2 separate regions of the Homo sapiens genome follow, and region 2 is linked to region 1. Evidence: fine-mapped expression QTL. A gene starts in region 1. The other region holds a variant in brackets. All regions are shown on one strand. Distances are from middle to middle. Region 1 holds the start of ZNF180 (zinc finger protein 180). Region 2 overlaps ZNF180 (zinc finger protein 180).

Region 1 (5,376 bases):
TTACATCTTTACAACACACAGCTAGCAACACAGCATTTCTATTTGTCCATTTTTCTCTCTCAGTAAGGTTTTGAGGGTTTCTTCAGATGACATATTTATCTTACTAAATTTACTTATAAGGCTTTTTTTTTTTGCTTTTTTGTGAATACATACGAACTTTTTCTGTTTTGTTTGCAAACTTAGTATTGCTTGCACGTAGAGGAAAGATACTGATGTGTAGACAAGCGGCAACATAATGTAAAAGTTAAGAGCATGGACTCTAGAGTTCAACATCTTGGTCTCAAATGCACAACATAGGTGGAAATACAGATGAAACAAGACTGAGTGAAAATATTTAAGTTGGATGACATAGGTCTTGGGGAGTCATTAATTGAGTCCCTACTTTTGTTTTGAAATTTACAAAATAAAAGGTTAAAAAAATAAGCTACTTACTTCAATGTAGAAACCGATGTCACATTTAACCCTCAAACTTCAGAGATATGTCCATTAAAAGAACACAAACAAGAATGCCTCTTTTAGTAATACTTTTTTGGAAATGGTAGCCAATATAATCCAACATGAAAGAGAATGTCTAATTTAAAATACTGGTAAGGAAAAGATGAAATTGTAGATAACTGTCTCAATAGAAAAGCCAAGAGAGTCAACTGGAGTATTGTAAGAATTAATAACATTGCAGTAGGTTAACCAGATACAAAATAAGTATTTTTTAAAAGATCAACCACAATAACCAATAATAAGAAGCTTTGGGGATAGAGATTACATTTCAAATAGTAATAATTCATTGTTTTTAAAGGTCAGAATTTACGTGAAGAAAACTACAGGAGTGCTTTGACAAGCATTTTAAAAACTAAAAAATTATGTATTTTCATACAGCAGGGCTCCAATTTTCAGCTACCTCCCTGGTAGGATGAAAATTAACACAACTACCTCATAGGCTGATTGGGCTTGGTAATGAAATATTAAAGTGTTTAATACAGAGACAGGAACCTTTATTTAGCCAACGAATATTTATTGAGCATCTATTATGTGCCAGGTCTCTCTCTTTTTTTTTTTTTTAGGTGTTGGGGATGCAGCAGTGATCAACATCGATAAAATGCTTTTCCTTATGGAATTGACATCGTAGTGGTAGGTCGGACAGTAGACCAAATAAATAATTAAAATATATAGTGTGCTAGATAGTGAAAAGTTCTTTAGAGAAAAAAATAAAAGATGAAGGGGGAGGCACAGAGCATGTGGGGAGGGAAGCGTTTGCTTGCAAGTTCACAACGGGTGGTGGGGCAATGCCTCATGAGAAGATGATATTCCCCTAATTACCAGACGGTGAGAGCCAAATGAATCCCTCAGGAGAGGCTGCTAGGGAGTGCAAAGAGCACCTGCAAACGACCAGGGGCTGGAGTCTGCTGGATCTGTTGGAGAATGGGGAAAATGTGCCAAGCAAATGGGCAAGAAATGAGGGCAAAGAGAAAAGGGGACTACGCCTGTAATCCCAGCACTTTGGGAGGCCGAGGGCGGATCACCTGAGGTCAGGAGTTGGAGACTAACCTGGCCAACGTGGTGAAACCCCGTCTCTACTAAAAATACAAAAATTAGCCGGGCGTGGTGGCTGGCGCCTGTAATCCCAGCTATTCAGGAGGCTGAGGCAGGAGAATCGCTTGAATCCGGGAGGTGGAGGTTGCAGTGAGCCGAGATCGCGCTATTGCCCTCCAGCCTGGGCGACAAGAGCGAAATTCCGTCTCAAAACAACAAAACAAAACAAAACAAAAACAGAGAAAAGGGGAGAGGTGGGGGGAACAGATCCTTCAGGCCTTATAGGCAGAGAAAGAACTCAAAATTTAAAAATAAAATGATTATATTTTAGTATTATTAAATGTAAAAACATAGATTCCTGAAGGGTTCGGTAGACGCTCCCTCCACTGTAAAATGGGGATGTCGCAACTGTCTCACAGGTTTCCCCTAGGACTAGAGGAGACAAGGGGTCGCGCGCAGCGTCTGACAGGCAGGGGGCACCCAGAAAGGGTCCCCGCCATTTCTATTGGATTCTGACGTCACGCCAGAGCGACTCCCCATGCGTCGCTGCACTGGCCTCGGCCTCCCGGCGCCGCGGCTGGTCTTAGTGCTCCCCCTAGACCTGCACATGCACAGGTGTGGCGCCCCCCCGGGCCCCGGACGAGGACGCCCTCTTAGCTTCTGGCCCGGTCCCCCGCCCCACTTCCTTGGAGAAGCCGGAACCCCGCCTACTGACCGTCCGCGCCGCGGAGGCTTCTGGGAATTGTAGTTCTGGCTCTCCGAGCCCAAGTGCACTTCCGGGTTCGGCCACAAGAGCAGCCATTGTCCCGCGCGCGGACGCTTGCTGTCGCCGAGCAGCTCGGCCCTTCAGACTTAACCCCCAGCGGCCTTGCGGATGCTGACTAGGAGAGGGGACCGAACTAGCTTAACCCGAGTCGGCCGTGTTGCAGAATCGGGGCAGGGGGTTGCCTAACCCGAGTTCGTCCTGCCGCAGAGCCGTGCTAGGCACTGAGGCGGTGACAGGCCCAGCCTGGGCTGCGGGCCAGCGGACGCCCAGGTTGGTAGGGGCGTGGGGCAGCGCTTGGTGTCCGATGCGCGCATGCGCAGGGTCTACGCGGGAAGCTGGAAGCGGTGGTGAGTGTAGCGGGGAGACCTGGTATCTGTGCGGGTGGCGCTTTAGCCTCGGGTCACCGGGGTTGATGGAGTTACTGATACAGCTGTATATTCCGCGACTGTCCTCTGCGTGCATGCGCGGGTGCTTGGTCAGGTGGTGCTCTTGTCTGGGGCCTGAGGATGCCCAGGTTGCTGGAACACAGGGCACATGCATTGATGTAAGGGGACATCTTGAGAACTCCCCTCCTCCAATGCCGGGCTTATTTAGTGGAGGCCTGAGGATGTCCGGGTTGATGGAGTGCTCCATTGCAGATTGTGGTTTCTGGAGAGGAGGGGCTGTGCCACTGTCCCTTTACTCTTGATCAGGTATTTGGGTAGGAAGCAAAAGGTTGTAGGTAAGATTCCGAGCAGGTGGCTCTGGGCCCCTAGAGCAGACAACGCGCTTCTCCAAGGTCTGGGGGCGCTGTGGTTGGTGGAGAGACCAGATTGGAGTTGCAGATTCTTGTGCCAGAAGAGGCAGTGTTGCTAGTGAACCCTTGGTGGGAATTACCCATGGGCAGCAAACTCCCAGGCTGAAGGAGGGTATCAGGGCCTAGAAACAGGTTCTGGGCAGAGGGCCCCCTGCACGTCCTGGGGGTGTCTGAATGGAAAACAGAAACTTGAACTGATAGTAGGGACCTATGTAGGATAGTGCAGAGCTCTAGAGCATTCAAGATGGGCAGAGACTCCGGGTTGGAGATACAGAATTTAAGTCCAGGAAGGACAGAGCTGCAACAGCTGCCATCAAATTGGTAGCTGGGGAGGAAGCAGTATGTTGCCAGCATCGTTATGAAGCAGGTGTTGCTGAGACCTTTACTTGGGTACGCTATTTGCAGGCGTGAGAATGTGCAGGTTAGTAGAGGGACAGAGCCTGTGCTGCAGATTTGGTCCCGGGAAGAGCTGACTGCACAACACCCAGGCCGTCATGATTGGGCAAGAGAAGGACAAAGGGCCCAGTTCCCATTGAGCTGCTGTATCGTAGGCTCGAGAACCCCCACGCTGGCGAGTGCCCAAGTCCTGGGGCTGATTATGGAGCTGTATGCTCAAGCTACTGTTTAGTTGTTGTAGTGTCCTGGCTGCGGGCAAATAGTGGGGCAGTTGACCCCAGAACCTACACAGAGGCTGTGGGTACCTGAGATGTCCCAGGCAGGTTGAGACACAGGGTGAGGGATGTAGATTGTTGACTCAGGAGCATGGTGTGCCCCCAGACGGGCAGAGGAGCCAGGTCCTGGATGCAGATTGTGAGCACGAACCTGCTCTGTGGCTGTATCAGTAGGAGGGAGTCTAGGTGGGTGGCCCGTGTGCAGTGGCTGTGGAATAGAGGCCTGGGGGCTCCAGTTTGGATCTGGTCTTAGGAGGCACGGGGCTGCTCCAGCAACACTCTGCACGTGTGCTGGCATTTGGGCAGATTGGGGAGGCATGGGCAGTCCTAGGACCCTGATTCTGCCTGAGGATGCCCAGGTGTGTGGGGGGGAGCAGCTGCAGAGGGGCGGGACTGTGTCAGGCACCCCTTGTGCACACACACCGGTGTTTGGTTGGGAAACAGGAGGCCGGAGATGAGTTTTAGACAGAGGGTGCTGGGGTCTTTGTGTGATTGGAACCCTGATCACAGCCTGATGGTGCCCAGTTTGGTGGAAAGACAGGATCTTCCTGAGCCACAGGTGCCCCCGAAAGATGTTTGGTCAGAATCTGGGCAGGTGTGGCTCAAGCAGGGGGCTGTGGAGTAAGGTGGAGGAAACAGTTTGGGTGCAATTTCAGGAAACAGCTGCATTGTGAACCTACGCTATGCTGCGTGAGAATATGGTGGGAGCAGGGGAGAGAGTAAGTGGGAGAGATGGAGTGCAGAGGGTGGGGTGCCTAGGGTAGGATTTGCCCTCTAGTCTTGGATCCCAAAACACCTAGTTGGTACAGAGGCACCTGAGCTTCTGAGACATGTATTTAGAGCCTGGGTAGGGCTGCTTTTGTCTGGCTTGTGCTGGTGTCTGTTGGAGGCCCCCAGCCCTATGCAGGCCTTGTTGTAGTTTCAGGCCTGAGTATACCCAAGTTGGTGGAGGGACTGGTTTAGAGCTACAAATTCAGGGCCTGGGAGGGTGTTAGGGTGGGAATCTGGCTGGTGCTGTTCGAGTAGGAGCCAGTGGACCCCAGAAGTGTGGAGGGAACAGGATGTGGGTATAGCTGAGCTCTGTGCATAAATGCTTGGCTATTTGAGCAGGATGTGGGTGGCCCTCTGTGCTGAGTTGCTGGAGGGACAGGTCTGGCTGATGGAACGGTAGGATCAGTCTTAGTTGTTGAATCAGTTCCTGGGAGCAGTGGAGCTGTGTCACCAGCTTCATGCAGTTAGGCAGTGAGTGTGATTCTGGCCCTAGGAAGAAGTGCTGGTTTGGGGCTGTAGATTGAGGTTGGTAGGGGTAGGATGGGGTGAACACCAGGGGGTCCTCAATATGCCTGATATTTGTGGGGATCCCAGGGCCCAGTGAATAGGAGAGGGATGGACTGGTGCTGCAGACTTTGGTGGTGGGCAGAAGGCCATGTTGGGCACAAGCTGGGCTTACAGGTAGATGGTCCAGGGGCCCAAGATGGTGGAGGAACCAGGTTGGAGCTGCAGAAACTTGACCTGGGAGAGGGACTGAGGGACTCTCAGTACATACACAGGTATTTGGGCAGGAAGCTGGCAGGAACCTCCAGAAGTGCATTTGCTATGGGAATGCATCCTGCATC
Region 2 (5,376 bases), 27 kb after region 1:
ATGGTTTCATATGAAGAACTGAGAATGCGTGGGAAGTATAGAGGGCAAGTGGGCTTATTTTCATATATGCAAAGCAATATTAAGGAACTCTATTTTCATGTTTTAGTTCTTCCCCTCATGTAGCATTGTCTCTTTCCTCTGGGATATGTTCCCTGATGTGAGAGTCCTCTGAATAGAAGGGTGCTTCCCTGGCTCAGTGCTGACCGTCTAAATTATGCTTGCAAAAATGCTTTCATGAGGCAAAGTTTTAGTTACTCTTTGATATTTAAGATTTGATTAACATGTCTTTCTGACCTTTCCCTTGAATCATGAATTTGAATCCTGTGGATGACCATATATTGAAGCCTCTGATCCCAGAAAGGTAATAAGCTGAAAGTTGAACTGAGAGACCAGATAATAGAGGTTAATACCCTTGGGATAGGAAAGAAAACTTAAAGGGTAACTGATGGGGTTATCCTTAGCAAAATTCTATCCCTATGAGATGACCCTAAGTGGAGCCATCTCTATGAGGATTAATCCAGAGATTGTTGCACACCTGGCAGTGTCAGGTCTGGGAAAACAGTTGCTGATGTTTTCATGGAGTGTGAAATACTGAAAGCTGCGGGCATCCCTTGGGGACCACTGACCCACACTTTGAAGAACCCTCAATGAGTCTGAAAGAGGTTCAGTATCTCTTGGGAAGGATGTGTTCCAGGCTCCAGGCCTAGTCTTACATGGCCAGTGGGGTTGAAAGACTGTGCCCCTGCAATGGTCTTTTCCTAAGACAGTTGAACAAAGTTCCAAGTCTGTCTGTCCTATTTTAACCATCTTTAAGAAGCACAAAGGGGATATGAGAAAAACAGATGCTGAAATGAAAATTTTAACTGATATCTTACTTATCTCACAAGTCGTGTAAAGAAAGAAATGATATGGTCGAATATTAGATTAGATGGTTTAATGATGTTTTGAGTGTTATATATGAGCTATGATGAGACCTAGAAAATAAAGTAAAAATAAAAAATATATAAGCCATGAACATTCTTCATATTCAGTGACAGTCTGCCTGCCACACCCAGGAATTACAGAGACACTCATAGACCTCACGGGATCCTCCCCTATGTCTCCCATCTCTTCACCACCAGCCCTCAGGGAGTCTCATGTCTCCCAATTACTCTCCAATCATTCCTAGATTTCTGTAACAGTCAGGCCCTGACACCCATGTAACAAGCAGAAACTCAGGGACCTCACAGGGCTCTGGCCCCATGTCTCCCAACTCTTTACTCCAGGCCCTCAGGTACTCTCCTGTGTCTCCCAGATTCTCTCAATCCCCAGCTTACTGCAACATTCAGCTTCCCAAACCCAAGTATCACCTATAGACAAAAATCTCAGGGCCCTCTTCTATCACGTCTCCCATCTCTTCACCTGCAACCCTCAGGGACTCTCCTGTGTCTCCCAGCTCCTCTCCAACCATCCCCAGATTTCTCCTTGGGTCAGCCCTGAACACACAGGAGTCACCCAGAAACTCATAGACCTCACTGTGCTCCTCCCTTATCTCTGTCACCTCTATACCACCATTCCTTAGGGCCTCATCTGTGTCTCCCAGCTATTCTCCAAGCATCCTCAGTTTTCTGCAAGAGTCACCCCTCAGCATTCAGGAGAACCCTAGAAATTCACAGAGCTCACCAGATTATTCCCCAACTACCTCCACCTACACAGCAATGGCTCCCACATACTCCCTGGGGGCCCCACACCTATCTTCCTTTACACTCAGAGACTCCCAGGGCCTCACAGTCACTCCCCATTATCATCATTCAGCTGTAAGTCCTTGCAAATCTCCTGGCCAACGTGATGCATTTACCTGCCCATTTCTCCACATTCCTGCTCAGGGTCCCACACCTAGCCGCAGAAGAGCCCCTTCCGCATTCCAGCCTCAAATACAGGCTTGTCCTTCTACTTCATACTGCCACACACTTGCCGGCAGAAGAGGCGCGTCTAATGGCCGACATCACCACCCAGGCAATCATCACCCCTCAGCTGTGCAGCGGGACCCTCCTGCCTGCCGATGTGGCTGCCGGCGCCTGTGCCAGCGCGAACCCCCAGCCTGTCATGCTGACCTCATCGATGGCAGCGTCCCTGTCTTTTGCTCCCCCAGCCCTCCCAAAGGCTGAGTTAGCCTCTATCATCTGGAATACAGTGTGGCTTCTGTTTTCCTAATTGAACCCTGACTTACTACCTTTATAATGTTTCTCTCTGCTTATGTAGTCTTTGATGAGTC[A/G]GAAGGTCCTTGCCACGCTCACAATGTGTGTACTGTGTCTCATCTATATGCACTCTCTGATGGGCAAGGAGGTATGAATTACGACTGAAGCCCTTACCACATGCCTTACACTTATAGGGCCTCTCTCCTGTGTGGACTCTGAGGTGAACACGAAGATCTGAATTCCGACTGAAGTCTTTACCACACTCATCACATTTATATGGTTTCTCTCTGGTGTGATCTCTTTGATGTAAGTGAAAATATGAACTGTAACTAAAGCACTTTCCACACACTTTGCATTTATATGGTTTTTCTCGAGTGTGAACTCAGATGAGTGTGAAGAACAGAGCTATACACAAAATCCTTTCCACACACATTGCATTTGTATGGTTTCTCCCCTGTGTGGACTCTCTGGTGAATGTGAAGGTGTGTACTTTGGCTGAAGCCCTTTCCACACTCATCACACCTATAAGGTTTCTCCCCTGTGTGAAACCTCCAGTGGACTTGAAGAACGGAGCTTGAACTAAAGCACTTGCCACACTCACTGCATTTGTAGGGCTTCTCTCCAGCGTGGACTCTCTGATGGACAAGAAGGTTGGAGCTCTGATCAAAGCCCTTCCCACACTCTTCACTTTTATAGGGCTTTTCCCTGTGTGTACTCCCTGATGAATACAAAGAAGTGACCTAAATCCAAACCCTTTCCCACATGCATCACATTTGTAGGGCATCTCCCTTGTGTGGACTCCATGATGGTTATAAAGGAAGGAGTTGCACCTGAAGCCCTTGCCACATTCTTTACATTTGTAGGGTTTGTTTCCTGAAGGGACTTTCTGATATCTGGGAAGGTCTGAGCTCTGTTTGCAGCCCATAGGCCATTCGTGGAATTCATAGGGAGTCTCGCCAGAGTGAGTTTTACAATGAACGATAAGATCTTGGCTCTGACTAAAGTTCTTTCCATACTGGTCACATTTATAAGATTTTTCTCCTAGGTGAGTGCTGTGATGGACATGAGGATCTGTATCATCTGCAAAGGGCACCCCACAGTTATTACATGTGAAAGGCTGTGGTAATACATGGACTGCATTATGTTGTTCAACTGTTGATTTCATACCAAAGTTTTTCCTGCAGTTGGGATGTCTACCAGGGTCCTCTCCTTTACATTCTTGGGACTCATGATGATCATGTGAGGTCCAGTTGAGGCTGTCATCATGCTGAGCACGTCTGTACAATTTCTCTTCCATGTAAATTCCCTTATATCTTCCCTGAGAGTTCTGGGGCTCGGTCATTATGTTGGCTTTCCTCCACGATTCTGGGGTAAGAACCTGTGTCAGGCTTTGCCATGCTGTGATATCCTGATTTTTGATAATGACATTTGCTACATAGTTTTCATTTTCAGAAATCTGAAGAGACTTGCCTGCTCACTCTTCACAGAGGGAAACATTTTTAAATGTGGGGAACACTCTTCTTGAAGGTTCATGATATAATCCTGACTCCCAGTTAAATCCTGGATCCTTTGTTTCGAAATCTGCCAGCAATGAAGCACTTCTTGTAAAAGGTAATTCAACCCCTTTTCCTGAAGATTCAAAATGTTGTTTTTAATCCCATCTCTTATGAGAAGAAAGAGAATGTGGCTAAGAGACCAAGTCAATCATCTGTCCAGAGGTTTTGAGAAAACGAAATATGATGGGGTGGGAAGTTGTCCCTGGCTTCTATTGACATATGAAACAATTAGAGCCACGGTAATTCTAACCTGTGAGCTGCCAATTGGAAATCAAGTGTTGTAGGGAAATTAAAAGAAATCTTGGCCAGGTGCAGTGGCTCATGCCTGTAATAGCAACACTTTGAGAGGCTGAGGTGGGAGGATCACTCAAGCCCAGGAGATCAAGACCAGGCTGGGCAATATGATGAGATCCCATCTCTACAAAAAAATTAAAAATTGGCTCAGTTTTGCCTATGATCCCAGCCACTTGGAAATCTGAGGTTGGAGGATTGCTTAATCCTGGGAGGCAGAGGTTGCAGTGAGCCAAGATTGTGCCACTGCATTCCAGCCTGGGTGACAGAGCAAGACCTTTCCACCCCTACTCTGCAAAAAAGAAAAAAAAGGAAATCTTAGGAAAAATTTATGAAGGAAGAAATTCACCTCCCTGCTATAAGAGTAGTCGATAAAAAGCCTTTAATAATCTTGCTACAAAAGGTATGGGAAAGGCTCCCATTTTATGTAGTGTGTGTGTGTATATAAATAATACATATTGATGGAGTGTTTTTTATATGTTGGGCAGAGTAAGGGACACAAAGGGTCACAAGAGGTTTCAGAAACAAGCAACAAGTCCTATCTCCTGATGGCTTCCCTTCCTTCACATCACTGTCATATGGAGGACTATCATGTATGTTTGTGTACAACCTGCACAACTGTACATGGTGAGCCTAAAGGGGATGGGGATAAAAAGGCAATGGGGATTGAAATGGGGTAAACATTGTGAAATATGGTCCTGGCGTTGTGCGGGGATGCGTATGTAAACCTCTGAGACAAGCTTTAAGAGACATCCTTTTTATTTTCCCCAAGGTTCTTTGTCTTCATGAAAAGATAGAGACCACTCAGATCCTACAATCCATTTCCTTAAGTTCTGCCCTTTTAAGTTGTTGCAGAATCTCAAACAGCCATGACTATGAAAATGGGGAACAGATACTGTGGCACTGTCAATGGCCTGGCACCCAGGGAAGCAAGACTGTGGTATATAACAAACAGGGGGCTGAGGCAGAAGAGGACGATCATATTCTTGGGATCCTAAGATGGGTTTCAAAATGGCATGAATATCATGGTCAAGTCCCACTGGATACTGCTTCTGGTTCAAGGTCCTTTCTGGGTTGTTTTATTGAAAGTGACTTTAGTTTATAAGATAGTATCAGGGAAAGGGAGACCACGAGCTGCCCTGAATAGGGTTTAAGCAGTGGTTTCCCAATTGTTTTGATTGTAACCCACAGTAAAATCAGCATTGTGACTCAGTAGGAATAGGCACAAACATCAACACAGACTGCTCACTAAAACTTGCTCAGCTGATAGTTACATACTGTGTGCAATGTACTTTGATAAATTCTTTTGTTTTCTGTTCTATTAATCTATTTTGCTTTTTAAAAATTGCTAG

What was found. PIP is the estimated chance that this variant, and not a neighbour inherited with it, causes the effect. A credible set is the group of variants that fine-mapping cannot tell apart.
Region 2: its variant is the best candidate, but not a certain one, in a credible set for the expression of ZNF180 in prefrontal cortex (GTEx, PIP 0.68).

What each region holds. Positions count from the first base shown.
Region 1 is chr19:44,497,462-44,502,837 of GRCh38, reverse strand. It overlaps ZNF180 (zinc finger protein 180), which reads left to right and starts at 2,316. Exons shown (of 5, transcript NM_001278509.3): 1 at 2,316-2,563. RefSeq lists enhancers at 1,861-1,910, 2,087-2,381, 2,221-2,430, 2,441-2,500, 2,047-2,547 and 2 more.
Region 2 is chr19:44,470,067-44,475,442 of GRCh38, reverse strand. ZNF180 (zinc finger protein 180) reads left to right here. Exons shown (of 5, transcript NM_001278509.3): 5 at 1-1,000. It also overlaps the pseudogene ZNF285BP. Among named protein-coding and RNA genes, the nearest start is that of ZNF229, 24 kb to the right of the region's middle. The variant A/G (reference allele first, on the strand shown) is at 2,255.